Linked DNA regions of Homo sapiens: region 2 is linked to region 1. A link means that fine-mapping ties the variant in region 1 to the expression of a gene that starts in the linked region. Tissue or cell type: transverse colon. Region 1 holds a variant in brackets; the other region holds the start of a gene. All regions are shown on one strand. Distances are between the middles of the regions.

The links. PIP is the estimated chance that this variant, and not a neighbour inherited with it, causes the effect.
Region 2: it holds the start of ACADM, and the variant in region 1 is fine-mapped to the expression of ACADM in transverse colon (GTEx, PIP 0.96).

What each region holds. Positions count from the first base shown.
Region 1 is chr1:75,104,408-75,112,515 of GRCh38, forward strand. No RefSeq gene overlaps it. Among named protein-coding and RNA genes, the nearest start is that of LHX8-AS1, 24 kb to the right of the region's middle. The variant C/A (reference allele first, on the strand shown) is at 3,695.
Region 2 is chr1:75,721,678-75,729,785 of GRCh38, forward strand. It overlaps ACADM (acyl-CoA dehydrogenase medium chain), which reads left to right and starts at 3,032. Exons shown (of 12, transcript NM_000016.6): 1 at 3,032-3,140; 2 at 6,724-6,811. The coding sequence starts at 3,111. It also overlaps a transcript of SLC44A5 not described here. RefSeq lists enhancers at 2,418-2,507, 3,158-3,247 and silencers at 2,878-2,927, 2,978-3,027.

The DNA.
Region 1 (8,108 bases):
AGAAAGGAAGACTCCATTTATATGATCACCAACTCTAAATTAGCAGAGTTTGAATTAATAAAGATTCTCTGAAGGTAGATTAGACACATTACCTCTCTGTCACTTTAAAGACTAGAGATGATTATAAAATGATAATGACAATTCACATTTTTTTGTTTTGTTTTCACATAGGAAATCATGTGCACATGCAGAGATCTTCCAGATTCAGACACTGCTGTAGGAATTTGTTTTTGCAGCCTATTGAGTATAAAAACATTTCCAGAAGATAAGAAACAATCAACTTCAGGTCCCCTATGACATCATTAATTATGAACGAGTACAATAAGCAAACTAGTGATAATATAATGAACATATTTTTTAAAGTGGAAAAAATTAAACCAATATGGCAAAAACTCTTCCTTTCATTACATTAATAATAGAAAATAGATTTCATAAAAAATACTATTTCATTTTAATTCACTCAAAATGATAAAAGGGGCTTGGTGCGGTGGCTCACGCCTGTAATCCCAGCACTTTGGACGCCTGAGGCAGGCAGATAGCTTAAGCCCAGGAGCTGGAGACCAGCACTGGCAACAAAGTGAGACCCCCATCTGTTTTAAAAATTAGCCCAGCATAGCAGCATGCACCTGCAGTCCCAGCTACTGGAAGGATGGGGGCGTGGCTGAGGCTGAGTTGGGAGGATCATTTGAGCCCCAGAATCAGAAGTTGCAGTGAGCTGATATTGCATCACTGCACTCCGTCCTGGGCAACAGAGCGAGACTCTGCCTCGAGATATATATATATATATATATATATATACACACATATATATACATATGTATATATATGTATATATATGTGTATATATATATATGTATATATGTATTTATCGTGATTAAACAAAACTCAAATGACAAATTGTCTTTCTAGCTCCACAAAGCCTTTTAAATACTTAATTGTGTTATATAGCTTTAAATTATTTTGTAAGTTATAAAAAGCTAATACAATTATCATTCATGCCTTTATATTTTGATGCTTTGAGGGGTTAACAAATTCTGAGTAAAAACATTCATTTAAGAAATCCAGGCTAGTTATGGTGGCTCACGCCTGTAATCTCAGCACTTTGGGAGTCCAAGGCTGGAGGATCACTTGAGTCCAGGAGTTGGAGATGAGCCTGGGCAACAGAGTAAGACCTCATCTCCACAAAAAAATAAACAAAATTAGTTGTTTTCTTCCTTTTAAAAATGTACGTTTTTTTCTACAGGATCCAACAAAGTGAAGAAACAATCTTTTATCATTTAAAAATGTAACCCATCCTGCATGTGAGATTTTGGGTGGTTTTTGTTTGTATGTTTAATATTTTAACTTTTAGTAAGTATATATACCATATTTATAGTTAGAACAAATGACACAGAATGATTTTTAATTGGCCCCAAAACATTTTTCTAGTTTGTCTTCATGGCAAAAAAAAAAAAAAAAAAAAAGTTAGTAGTCCAAAAAATTAAGCCTTGAAGTCATCATATCTACTATTATAATTAATCAAATAAGCAGTTCACATATAACAACTGTTTCTGGCTCAAAATTATACTTTTTTAAACAATTGTAATAACTAGCAATCCATGTATGGCTTTCTTTTCAAGCATTTCTGCACCATCTAAGTAGCTCATGAGCACTCTTGGTTTTTTCTCCATTCAAAGTAAGTCAAACATAAAACAAATCTACCTTGATTCACATACAAGGGCTTTGTGCCTAATGATATGGACATAATGAAACAGCTGGTACCATGTCTTTGATGAACCAAATAGAATGCAGCTAAGAAAATAAAAGTCAAGTTTCCAACTCTAAAGCACTTTTACTTTGTATAAACATAGCTCATTATTTCACATTATAAAATGTGAAAATATATCCAGTGTTGGCATAGCTTATAAAGTGCAAAAAACAAACAAACACAAAACCCAAAATAGCCTATGCTCTTCATTGTAGTGTCTTTTTAGTTTCATTGAACACATCAACTATTTCAAAATGCCTTTCTCAAGATTTTTAGGGGTTTTTTTTGGGGGGGGGCCTTGACATTGGCTTTAAACATTTTGGAACATGTTCATTTTCTTATTTGTGTTCACACAGAGGAATTCATATGAAATTAATGCCTACACTCTAATTCTAAATTTTAATGCCCAGTTGTTTAAAATAACATAATCTTAATAAATGCTCTATTTACTAATTATAATATAGTATTACATCCTATTAGACAGACATAAGTATGATTAGCAAACAATTATAAATGCTAACTACATTTATAATTATCTCATGTTAAACATTATAAAATATTATATACAATATTATATAATATGTTACTGCATAACATTATCAAACTTAATTATGATTATTTATACATATTTGGTTATGAGGAATAAAACTATAATCTAATGCCTTTTAAAACATAAACTAGCATTTCAATTTTTATTACTTTTTTAAAAAAATTATTATTCTACTTTAAGTTTTAGGGTACATGTGCATAATGTGCAGGTTAGTTACATAAGTATACATGTGCCATGCTGGTGCGCTGCACCCACTAACTCGTCATCTAGCATTAGGTATATCTCCCAATGCTATCCCTCCCCCCTCCCCCCACCCCACAACAGTCCCCAGAGTGTGATGTTCCCCTTCTTGTGTCCATGTGTTCTCATTGCTCAACTCCCACCTATGAGTGAGAATATGCGGTGTTTGGTTTTTTGTTCTTGCGATAGTTTACTGAGAATGATGATTTCCAATTTCATCCATGTCCCTACAAAGGACATGAATTCATCATTTTTTATGGCTGCATAGTATTCCATGGTGTATATGTGCCACATTTTCTTAATCCAGTCTATCATTGTTGGACATTTGGGTTGGTTCCAAGTCTTTGCTATTGTGAATAATGCTGCAATAAACATACGTGTGCATGTGTCTTTATAGCAGCATGATTTATAGTCCTTTGGGTATATACCCAGTAATGGGATGGCTGGGTCAAATGGTATTTCCAGTTCTAGATCCCTAAGGAATCGCCACACTGACTTCCACAATGGTTGAACTAGTTTACAGTCCCACCAACAGGGTAAAAGTGTTCCTATTTCTCCACATCCTCTCCAGCACCTGTTGTTTCCTGACTTTTTAATGATTGCCATTGTAACTGGTGTGAGATGGTATCTCATTGTGGTTTCGATTTGCATTTCTCTGATGGCTAGTGATGGTGAGCATTTTTTCATGTGTTTTCTGGCTGCATAAATGTCTTCTTTTGAGAAGTGTCTGTTCATGTCCTTCGCCCACTTTTTGATGGGGTTGTTTGTTTTTTTCTTGTTAATTTGTTTGAGTTCATTGTAGATTCTGGATATTAGCCCTTTGTCAGATGAGTAGGTTGCGAAAATTTTCTCCCATTTTGTAGGTTGCCTGTTCACTCTGATGGTAGTTTCTTTTGCTGTACAGAAGCTCTTTAGTTTAATTAGATACCATTTGTCAATTTTGGCTTTTGTTGCCATTGCTTTTGGTGTTTTAGACATGAAGTCCTTGCCCATGCCTATGTCCTGAATGGTATTGCCTAGGTTTTCTTCTAGGGTTTTTATGGTTTTAGGTCTAACGTTTAAGTCTTTATACCACCTTGAATTGATTTTTGTATAAGGTGTAAGGAAGGGATCCAGTTTTGGCTTTCTACATATGGCTAGCCAGTTTTCCCAGCACC[C/A]TTTATTAAATAGGGAATCCTTTCCCCATTGCTTGTTTTTGTCAGGTTTGTCAAAGATCAGATAGTTGTAGATATGCGGCGTTATTTCTGAGGGCTCTGTTCTGTTCCATTGATCTATATCTCTGTTTTGGTACCAGTACCATGCTGTTTTGGTTACTGTAGCCTTGTAGTATAGTTTGAAGTCAGGTAGTGTGATGCCTCTGGCTTTGTTCTTTTGGCTTAGGTTTGACTTGGCGATGCGGGCTCTTTTTTGGTTCCATATGAACTTTAAAGTAGTTTTTTCCAATTCTGTGAAGGAAGTCATTGGTAGCTTGATGGGGATGGCATTGAATCTGTAAATTACCTTGGGCAGTATGGCCATTTTCACGATATTGAATCTTCCTACCCATGAGCATGGAATGTTCTTCCATTTGTTTGTATCCTCTTTTATTTCGTTGATCAGTGGTTTGTAGTTCTCCTTGAAGAGGTCCTTCACATCCCTTGTAAGTTGGATTCCTAGGTATTTTATTCTCTTTGCAGCAATTGTGAATGGGAGTTCACTCATGATTTGGCTCTCTTTGTCTCTTGTTGGTGTATAAGAATGCTTGTGATTTTTGTACATTGATTTTGTATCCTGAGACTTTGCTGAAGGTGCTTATCAGCTTAAGGAGATTTTGGGCTCAGACAATGGGGTTTTCTAGATATACAATCATGTCATCTGCAAACAGGGACAATTTGACTTCCTCTTTTCCTAATTGAATACCCTTTATTCCCTTCTCCTGCCTGATTGCCCTGGCCAGAACTTCCAACACTATGTTGAATAGGAGTGGTGAGAGAGGGCATCCCTGTCTTGTGCCAGTTTTCAAAGGGAATGCTTCCAGTTTTTGCCCATTCAGTATGATATTGGCTGTGGGTTTGTCACAGATAGCTCTTATTATTTTGAAATACGTCCCATCAATACCTAATTTATTGAGAGTTTTTAGCATGAAGTGTTGTTGAATTTTGTCAAAGGCCTTTTCTGCATCTATTGAGATAATCATGTGGTTTTTGTCTTTGCTTCTGTTTATATGCTGGATTACATTTATTGATTTGCGTATATTGAACCAGCCTTGCATCCCAGGGATGAAGCCCACTTGATCATGGTGGATAAGCTTTTTGATGTGCTGCTGGATTTGGTTTGCCAGTATTTTATTGAGGATTTTTGCATCAATGTTCATCAGGGATATTGGTCTAAAATTCTCTTTTTTGGTTGTGTCTCTGCCAGGCTTTGATATCAGGATGATGCTGGCCTCATAAAATGAGTTAGGGAGGATTCCCTCTTTTTCTATTCATTGGAATAGTTTCAGAAGGAATGGTACCAGTTCCTCCTTGTGCCTCTGGTAGAATTCGGCTGTGAATCCATCTGGTCCTGGACTCTTTTTGGTTGGTAAGCTATTGATTATTGCCACAATTTCAGAGTCTGTTATTGGTCTATTCAGAGATTCAACTTCTTCCTGGTTTAGTCTTGGGAGAGTGTATGTGTCGAGGAATTTATCCATTTCTTCTAGATTTTCTCGTTTATTTGTGTAGAGGTGGTTGTAGTATTCTCTGATGGTAGTTTGTATTTCTGTGGGATCGGTGGTGATATCCCCTTTATCATTTTTATTGCATCTATTTGATTCTTCTCTCTTTTTTTCTTTATTAGTCTTGCTAGCGGTCTATCAATTTTGTTGATCCTTTCAAAAAACCAGCTCCTGGATTCATTAAGTTTTTTGAAGGGTTTTTTGTGTCTCTATTTCCTTCAGTTCTGCTCTGATTTTAGTTATTTCTTGCCTTCTGCTAGCTTTTGAATGTGTTTGCTCTTGCTTTTCTAGTTCATTTAATTGTGATGTTAGGGTGTCAATTTTAGATCTTTCCTGCTTTCTCTTGTGGGCATTTAGTGCTATAAATTTCCCTCTACACACTGCTTTGAATGTGTCCCAGAGATTCTGGTATGTTGTGTCTTTGTTTTCGTTGGTTTCAAAGAACATCTTTATTTCTGCCTTCATTTTGTTATGTACCCAGTAGTCATTCAGGAGCAGGTTGTTCAGTTTCCATGTAGTTGAGCGGTTTTGAGTGAGATTCTTAATCCTGAGTTCTAGTTTGATTGCACTGTGGTCTGAGAGATAGTTTGTTATAATTTCTGTTCTTTTACATTTGCTGAGGACAGCTTTACTTCCAAGTATGTGGTCAATTTTGGAATAGGTGTGGTGTGGTGCTGAAAAAAATGTATATTCTGTTGATTTGGGGTGGAGAGTTCTGTAGATGTCTATTAGGTCCGCTTGGTGCAGAGCTGAGTTCAATTCCTGAGTATCCTTTTTGACATTCTGTCTTGTTGTTCTGTCTAATGTTGACAGTGGGGTGTTAAAGTCTCCCATTATTATTGTGTGGGAGTCTAAGTCTCTTTGTAGGTCACTAAGGACTTGCTTTATGAATCTGGGTGCTCCTGTATTGGGTGCATATATATTTAGGATAGTTAGCTCTTCTTGTTGAATTGATCCCTTTACCATTATGTAATGGCCTTCTTTGTCTCTTTTGATCTTTGTTGGTTTAAAGTCTGTTTTATCAGAGACTAGGATTGCAACCCCTGCCTTTTTTTGTTTTCCATTTGCTTGGTAGATCTTCCTCCATCCTTTTATTTTGAGCCTATGTGTGTCTCTGCACGTGAGATGGGTTTCCTGAATACAGCACACTGATGGGTCTTGACTCTTTATCCAATTTGCCAGTCTGTGTCTTTTAATTGGAGCATTTAGTCCATTAACATTTAAAGTTAATATTGTTATGTGTGAATTTGATCCTGTCATTATGATGTTAGCTGGTTATTTTGCTCGTTTGTTGATGCAGTTTCTTCCTAGTCTCAATGGTCTTTACATTTTGGCATGATTTTGCAGTGGCTCGTACCGGTTGTTCCTTTCCATGTTTAGCGCTTCCTTCAGGAGCTCTTTTAGGGCAGGCCTGGTGGTCATAAAAATCTCTCAGCATTTGCTTGTCTGTAAAGTATTTTATTTCTCCTTCACTTATGAAGCATAGTTTGGCTGGATATGAAATTCTGGGTTGAAAATTCTTTTCTTTAAGAATGTTGAATATTGGCCCCCACTCTCTTCTGGCTTGTAGCGTTTCTGCCAAGAGATCCGCTGTTAGTTTGATGGGCTTCCCTTTGAGGGTAACCCGACCTTTCTCTCTGGCTGCCCTTAACATTTTTTCCTTCATTTCAACTTTGGTGAATCTGACAATTATGTGTCTTGGAGTTGCTTTTGTCGAGGAGTATCTTTGTGGCGTTCTCTGTATTTCCTGAATCTGAACGTTGGCCTGCCTTGCTAGATTGGGGAAGTTCTCCTGGATAATATCCTGCAGAGTGTTTTCCAACTTGGTTCCATTCTCCCCGTCACTTTCAGGTACACCAATCAGACGTAGATTTGGTCTTTTCACATAGTCCCATATTTCTTGGTGGCTTTGCTCGTTTCTTTTTATTCTTTTTTCTCTAAACTTCCCTTCTTGCTTCATTTCACTCATTTCATCTTCCATCACTGATACCTTTCTTCCAGTTGATCGCATCGGCTCCTGAGGCTTCTGCATTCTTCATGTAGTTCTCGAGCCTTGGTTTTCAGCTCCATCAGCTCCTTTAAGCACTTCTCTGTATTGGTTATTCTAGTTATACATTCTTCTAAATTTTTTTCAAAGTTTTCAACTTCTATGCCTTTGGTTTGAATGTCCTCCCATAGCTCAGAGTAATTTGGTCGTCTGAAGCCTTCTTCTCTCAGCTCATCAAAGTCATTCTCCGTCCAGCTTTGTTCCATTGCTGGTGAGGAACTGCGTTCCTTTGGAGGAGGAGAGGTGCTCTGCTTTTTAGAGTTTCAAGTTTTTCTGCTCTGTTTTTTCCCCATCTTTGTGGTTTAATCTACTTTTGTTCTTTGATGATGGTGATGTACAGATGGGTTTCTGGTGTGGATGTCCTTTCTGTTTGTTAGTTTTCCTTCTAACAGACAGGACCCTCAGCTGCAGGTCTGTTGGAGTACCCTGCCATGTGAGGTGTCAGTCTGCCCCTGCTGGGGGGGCTTCCCAGTTAGGCTGCTCAGGGGTCAGTGTCAGGGACCCATTTGAGGAGGCAGTCTGCCCGTTCTCAGATCTCCAGCTCCGTGCTGGGGGAACTACTGCTCTCTTCAAAGCTGTCAGACAGGGACATTTAAGTCTGCAGAGGTTACTGCTGTCTTTTTGTTTGTCTGTGCCCTGCCCCCAGAGGTGGAGCCTACAGAGGAAGGCAGGCCTCCTTGAGCTATGGTGGGCTCCACCCAGTTCGAGCTTCTGGGCTGCTTTGTTTACCTAAGCAAGCCTGGGCAATGGCGGGCGCCCCTCCCGCAGCCTCACTGCCGCCTTGCAGTTTGTTCTCAGACTGCTGTGCTAGCAATCAGGGAGACTC
Region 2 (8,108 bases), 620 kb after region 1:
ATACAAAATCTAGAGGTACAAAATAAATAAAATCGGACAATCCAGCATTAGGGCATTCTTCATGACAACTGCTTGGTATCTTAAATTTGTTTAAAAAGACAGTTATTATTGGGAAAAATGAATTAGATTAAAAGCTTTAGATTAAAAGAAGCCAAAGAAAGTTAAAGCCCAACTTCAATGGGCAATCATTCATAGGATCCTGGTTCAAAAACAAACTATTTACAAAAGGTATTCTGGAGACAACTGGACAACTGGAGAAATGTAAATATTCTCTGGACCTTAAATAATAGTAGCGAATAATTGTTAATTTTCATTGATGTGATAAAGGTTTTATAGGAAATGGTTATATAGGAAAATGTCCTTGTAGGAGACATATAGCTAAAGTATTCTGAACTGAAGTGTCTTATCTACAACCTACAGATCTGAGAAAAATAAAACCAACAACCAAAACACACACACATAGGTACACATATAAATATATAAATAAATATGGAAAAATATTTGAATCTAGGTGATAATGATATTGAGAAGAAATTACTCAGGCCGATAGTACGAGTATGGGAGTCCTCAGTGTAAAAAGTGAAGTAGAGGTTCCTCTTCAAATGGACTTTCCTTTCCGTCTAATTAGGAATAAACAGTAACTTCTCTTAAAAGCAAAATTTATTCAAAGAACTGTGCTAACATATTGGAGGCCGAAACAATGAGGTTCGTGATCAACTCAGTATATCACTGGAGGCTATATGAGTAAGCAGCAAACTGTTTCTCATAAATGCAGAACGTTGGCGAACTGACAAACTGCGTATGCCACCCAGGAGGACTGCTGAGGGTAGTTACGATCTAGGCACAAATGTTTCTTATGATTAGGCATAATTGAAGCCTGTCAGTAACAATATGAACCTGTGATCAATTAAGCAGCTGACCAATCGTTACCACCTCCTCCCTGCTCCTGTTACCCAAAAAATAGGAAGGGCTGTGGAAGCTCTGTGGCTGCCTTTGCTCACGAGAAGCAGGGAGCTCTCTTCTTCTTCCCCTGGCCCTTTCCTTAAAACAGTTCCTTTTGTCTTAAGTTATCATTTCTACGTTCGTCCCTTCATTTGATCTCACAATGATGGTCTCAAGCAGTAACAGTAGTAACTGCTGTAACGATGGTCTCAAGTAGTAACCGTGGCAGTTGGCCACACTAACATTCTTTGATATCTGTTGGCCGTAATAAAGAAATCAATGTACTTTGTGCTCTTAGCTGCCACATTTTAGCCTAGATATTTGCCCTGGCATGCTTATACTGGTCCAAGGAAGCATTAGGCCATAGCCTGTTTTCTTCCTTATCTGGAGGTGTTTTTACCTTTCTCAGCATTCCACAAGTTGCTTCCTCCTTCCTTTGTTCTCCTCTGTCTTTGCCTCTTTTGGAAAGTTCTAAGTTGCTAGCCAATCAGGACAAGTACAGAGGTCCCCTTCCAGCCAATGGAAACCGGACACGGTAGTAGGGTGCACGTGTCAGGTTATAAATGACCCTGTCTCCTTTATGCGTGTGTGCTCTCGTGGCAAGACTACTAGCGAGCGGCAACCTTTCTGCAGAAAGTAAACTAGCCTTGCTAAGAGCTCCTTTGTCTCAGTGTTGATTTTTGCAACACTGAGCGCCCGTTCCCAACATCAGTAAGGCTTTTCTTTTTAATGAAAAGCAGCCCCAAATCCTTTTCTAAGAGCAGCCTGTGAAGTCGAGCTGCAGGCACAGACAAACAAGGGGGTAGCTTGCTTGGGTGAATGGTGGCAGGAACTACCGACTAGACATGTTTAAGATGAGGGCTCCATCTTCGCTTCTCTGCCAGCCACGTGTACAGTAAGAAGGGGTTACAATAGGCATATGGGTGATTTTGTGCTTTTCGTTCATCTTTTCTGTGTTTAAAATGTTCAGAATAAGAAATTGGAACAAAGGAGACATGAATAGACAATTCCTAATCATCTTTAAGAGTCCGCTTTGTGTTTTACTTACCACCACCACTTTGAAGGCTTTCTTGCCTATACCAGGACAAACTCAGCTCTTTATCCCTTTTCCGAATTTTCCTGGTACTTTCACTTTGAATATAGCGCTTAATTAACATTCTGCCTTGTACCTAGGACTAACACACTATAAATTCCCAGAAGACAAAGTAGGGGAATACAATAACAGGATATAGAATTTTAACAGCTAAATTAGATGAATTTATGGGTGACCTTTATTGGGCAAAAGAAAATGTTAAGTTAGTATAAGATTTAGTATAAGCTACCATCTCAAAACTCAGGGTCTCACTGGAAGAGAAAGTGACTCCAGGTAGAATTCCTCAGGGAGACATTCACTTCCATCATTCGCTGAACCAGGAGCTTTGGACAGCCTCGGATTGCACCCGCATATCCAAGGACACCACATCAGCGGACAAGTCATAAACAGCCTTGGGAATACGCGGAAAGGTCAAATTTACCTAAACAATTAAATTCTCTTTTAAATTTTAAGGAAACACAAGTATGCTTTCGCTTTAGGTAGGGCATTTGAGAGCAAAATGTACTAATACTTTGAATCCGCCAAGCAGACACGATCTGGGTTTGACCGTTCTCTCCGGGTAAAGGTGAAGGCTGACCACGGGGGCCGCTCTCCCTCCAGGCCCCAGCCACGCCCTCTAACCCAGGTTCCCGTCCTGCACCGCGCCGCAAGTCCCCCCACCGTTCAGCGCAACCGGGCCCTCCCAGCCCCGCCGCCGTCCCCCTCCCCCGCCCTGGCTCTCTTTCCGCGCTGCGGTCAGCCTCGGCGTCCCACAGAGAGGGCCAGAGGTGGAAACGCAGAAAACCAAACCAGGACTATCAGAGATTGCCCGGAGAGGGGATGCGACCCCTCCCCAGGTCGCAGCGACGGCGCACGCAAGGGTCACGGAGCATGCGTTGGCTACCCGGCGCCGGGGACCGCTGCCACCCCGCCTAGCGCAGCGCCCCGTCCTTCCGCAGCCCAACCGCCTCTTCCCGCCCCGCCCCATCCCGCCCACGGGCTCCAGTGGGCGGGACCAGAGGAGTCCCGCGTTCGGGGAGTATGTCAAGGCCGTGACCCGTGTATTATTGTCCGAGTGGCCGGAACGGGAGCCAACATGGCAGCGGGGTTCGGGCGATGCTGCAGGGTGAGAGGGAGCCCAGCGGTGCGGTGGGGCTGGAACATGGGTATTGTGGTGTCGGAGCAGGGGGCCCTGGGCCAAAAATAGGTGCGGCCGGGAGGAGTGGGAAGTCGGGCTGAGGAAGGAGCCAGCCTAGGGGCCCCCAACCTGCTTTCACGCCTCCTACCACCGGACGGAACGTAGCCTAGCGTTTCATTTTCCGTATCCTCCCGTCAGGCGACCCCGTTATAGCCGGCATCCTCTCTTTAGAATATCGTTTTTCTTTCTCTGGTAAACCCTCCAAATATTTACCGCGGGAATCCCACCTTTTTCCAAAGTGACCCCGTCTCTGTGTCAGAACCACGGGAAAAAGAAAAATGGAGCAGCTACTCCTTGAAATACTTAATGTTTAATAAGCTTTTCGTTGTAACGTTTCCACGTTGCTTACGGGAAAAAAAAAAGTAAAAAAAAAACCTGCAGAATTTTATGTGAACTTGTGTGTATATTCTAGTATTGGATCTTAATAGATTCTAAATAAGTTTGTCACTAGATGAATTTTGGTATCTTAAATATTCTTGATATGTTCACACCACTGCCATTTAGATGTCACTTAAAATTAAGTTAAAGTTATGTCTTGGACCAAAAAAGCTGCGGTTTTAGAATAATCCTAAAGAATTGCTGCCCATGTTTTGCTGGTGTTATGCAAGTTAATGTGCAGTGAAGGCAGAAATTGGGAGATTTCAGCTATTTTTAACTCCTACACCAGAAAAGCAGATTTCTCAACCTCCAAGGAAGGATCTAAAAAAAACCTGATATAGAAAACTTACACCCTTTTTCTCTTCTTTAACCCATAAAACTGACACTCTTATATTCCCAAGAAATGCACAAAAGTGTTCAATTCTAGTGGTGCTGTTTCGATATTTGGAATTTCATTGTTCTAGACAGAGAGCCCGAAGTAATAAAACCAATAGTTATATAGCATTAGGCTTTCAAAACATTATCGTACTTTAATCGTCCGAAAATACGCAGTGAGATTAGTCCCATTTTTTGGTTTTGAACGGAAGCTATAAGCAGTTTGTAAACCTGTCTACGGCCACAAATATGGTTGTGGAACCTAGATTCACATTCAGCAATTATAACTCCAGATCCCGTGCTGTTTCTGTTTTCTATTTGCAAACCACCTCTCTAATTAACTGGCTAACTTTGTTATGTAATTAACAGGTTGATGGGCATTGTATTCTGGTAATAGCAACCTTTGCACTTTGTTCTATGTAACATATTTTCCTGAACAGTCACATGTGAAGTGACTTTTTCCCTATTTAAATTCCCTCGGTTGGCCAGGTGCGGCGGCTCACGGTTGTGATCCTAGCACCTTGGGAGGCCTCGGCGGGTTGATCACTTAAGGCCAGGAGTTCGAGACCAGCCTGGCCAAAGCAGGGAAACCCTGTCTTTACTAAAAATAGGAAAAATTAGCTGGGCATGGTAGCATATGCCTGTAATCCCAGGAGGCTGAGTCTGCAGTGAGCGGAGATCTCTCCACCGCACTCTAGCCTGGGTGACAGAGGGAGACTCTGTCAAAAAAAAAAAAAAGTCCCTCAGTAGACCATTTAACCTGGTTTGAGTTCTGACTTTTGTGCATGGTATTTAAAAACGCATTTATAATAGAGTCAGGTTTTTTGTTCTGATTTTTGTGGAATGTTTTCCTTTGTTATGGAACCTAGTGACCAATTAGGATACTAACAGAAAGATCAGTATAGCAAGGTGGTTAATAGCATGCGCTCTTGATAGTAAATGTTAGAATCCTGGTTGCACTAATAGTAGAGTGACTTTGCCTAATTTAGTTGACTTTCTGAGCCTTCGTTTCTTCACATGCGAAAGTGGAATAAAAGTAATGGCTTAATCCTAGACTTGACCTGGGATTCAGTGAATTAACCTGTGTAACGCGACTGTAAATCAGAGTAGATTTGGTCTGTGACTGCTGGACAATAAGCACCAGAGAAACTGTTTCACTTTTTTTTTTTTTTTTTTTTTTGAGACGGAGTCTTGCTCTGTCACCCAGGCTGGAATGCAATGGTGCAGTCTAGGCTCACTGCAACCTCCGCCTTCCGGGTTCAAGCGATTCTCCTGCCTCAGCGTCCCGAGTAGCTGGGACTACAGGTGCGTGCCACCACACCTGGCTAATTTTTGTATTTTTAGTAGAAATGGGGTTTCACCATGTTGGTCAGGCTGGTCTCAAACCCCTGACCTCGTGATCCGCCCACCTCAGCCTCCCAAAGTGCTGGGATTACACGCATGAGCCACCCCACCTGGCACTGTTTCACTTTCAAAATAAAATTAATGAAGATGCAAAGAAAATGCGAGTTTTCATACTCTGTATGTTTTTATTACTGTAGTATGAGGTATGTTATTTGGAAAGCACTGTTTCAATTACAAATATTTGACACTCTTAATTATATTGTCACCTTACATGTAGGAATTCGTCTTTTATAAGTTGAAATTGTCATCTACAAAGACAGTTTCTTTTTACGGATTTTGAAAAACATAAGAATTTAAATAAAGAAACTTTAGTATATTCTTCAGCTGCTCTTTTCTCTTAGTATCTAAGCTTGTTAAAATTGCTGGATAGTTCAATTAAAATCTTTTACAGTGAAAATTGTGTAATTTTGACTGTCCTGAAACCTTTACTCAAGAACACCATTGTGGTTCCCAGTTTGGCAGCTTTAATAAATGCAAATTTTTACTTTTGTATCCATTAAACTGTCATGAATATAAAAATGGGTTGCAAAACAATAATATATGTATATTTGATTGTTTGTTTCTTTATATGTTCCTTTGAAGAAATATGACTATATTTCAGATCCTAAGACAAGTAGTGTATTAGTAGTTTAGAAGAGGGATGGCAAACGTGTTTGTAAAGGAACGGATAGTACATGTTTTTGGCTTTGTGAACCAGATGGTCTCTGTGGTAACTACTTAGATCTGCTGTGAAAGCGGCAATAGACAGCATGATGTGGCTGCACTGGTTTGGTGACTCCTTGCTCAGAACATTGTAAGAATCCCTGTAGACAGCAGAAAATACAGAACATGGTTTTATGCTAATTTGTTTTGTTAGAGTGGGGTATCCTAAAAAATGAGATCCTCTGAGGGGAAGGTTTCCAGAGGCATGCATGGGAGGCTCACAGTGACAGGGTATCAAAGTTGATGGACTAGGCAACTCTTGAACACAGTATGTTCACTTCCAGCCTATCGTTCTCCCCACCCCAACTCTCCAACCATTAATGTCCTAGGAGCTTGTAAGATACCCAGAATAGTGGTCCTACATCTACTACTACCCTTGACTGTTGTTTGTCCTAAACCCTCCACTTCAGTAGTATAAATACCACTGACTTTATTTTCATTACTTTTTAAAAACATCTCCTCTGTAATAGGAATTTATATAACTGATAATTGGCTTATTTAAATTATGATTGAAGGCATTTAAATAGTGATGACTTTAAAAACTATGAGTATGGTCAAACCAGTTGCTGTACTCACTTATGATTATCAGTAGTCTCTTATCTGATTAATGTTTAACTTATCAAATTTATTTTAATAAAAGTGTTCTTTACAGGTCCTGAGAAGTATTTCTCGTTTTCATTGGAGATCACAGCATACAAAAGCCAATCGACAACGTGAACCAGGATTAGGATTTAGTTTTGGTATATGTTCGGTTCTATCTTTTGACTTTAAACTTATACATATGAAGCTTTATATGTTTTGTTTGGAATATGTTTGTAAATAAACTTAATAATGTCTTTCAATGAGTAGAACCAGTCCACTGTCCACAGATAATTTACAATAACTCACACTCCATTCTTCCTGATCTCATTTTCTTCCTCAGTATACTACACTGTACATTAGATCTGTTTTAGCAGCATACATACACTTAAATTCCTTCCTTTTTTTCTGAGTGTTTAGCCCAAAATAAATGAGATTTACTGATATATATGAATAGTCTTCAACTTACATATCTGAATGCCACAAATACATTTTAAAAACACTTGTTAGATTACAATTCTAGGTGCCTGGTAATAAGCTAAAGCTTGTTTTTGCTATAATATATCCAAATTGCAATTTTGGTACTATTAGATGAAGTTCTCACTCCTGGGACCAGGGAGCCATGATTTTTTTTCCTCTGCCCTCTATAAAATGAAAACTACACACAAAAAATTTGAAATAATATCTATCTTTGGCATTCTTGGCCTTCTAAAGTGCTTCTTCAAAATTTTTATTTTTTCTCTAGTTAAAAACCATTTACTCAATTTATTTGGTCTCAGAAAATAGTTAAAGGCAGCTGCGATAACTCACAGCTAGGTACAAATGACAATCTCAAAGCTCTCCAGAGTTATTTTTTTTATTATTTGTTGTGTTTTTTAAAGATTTTTCCCTTTTCTTTATAAAGGTTTTTTTTTTTCTTACCAGAATTTAATGAAATTTTTCTTTTCTTTTTCTTTCTTTCTTTTTTCTTTTTTTTTTTTTTTTTAAGATGAGGTTTCATTGTCTCATTATGTTGCCCAGGCCGATCTTGAACTCCTAGGCTCAAGCAGTCCTCTTATTTCAGCCTCCCAAAGTGCTGGGATTATAGGCATGAGCTACTGCACCCAGACCAAATGAAAAGTTTCTGTGTTTTTTTTTTTTTTCCTGTGACTTCTAGCCAAAGACTGGATGAAAATTTTCTCTTTTCTTTTTTTTGAGACAGAGTCTCACTCTGTCACCCAGGCTGGTGTGCAAGTGGCTCACTGCAACCTCTACCTCCCAGGATCAAGCGATTCTCCTGCCCCAGCCTCCTGAGTAGCTGGGACTACAGGTGTGGGTCATCATGCCTGGCTAATTTCTATATTTTTAGTAGGGATGGGGTTTTGCCACGTTGGCCAGGCTGGTCTCGAACAGCTGAAGACAAGTGATCCACCCACCTCTGCCTCCCAAAGTGCTGGGATTACAGGCATGAACCACTGT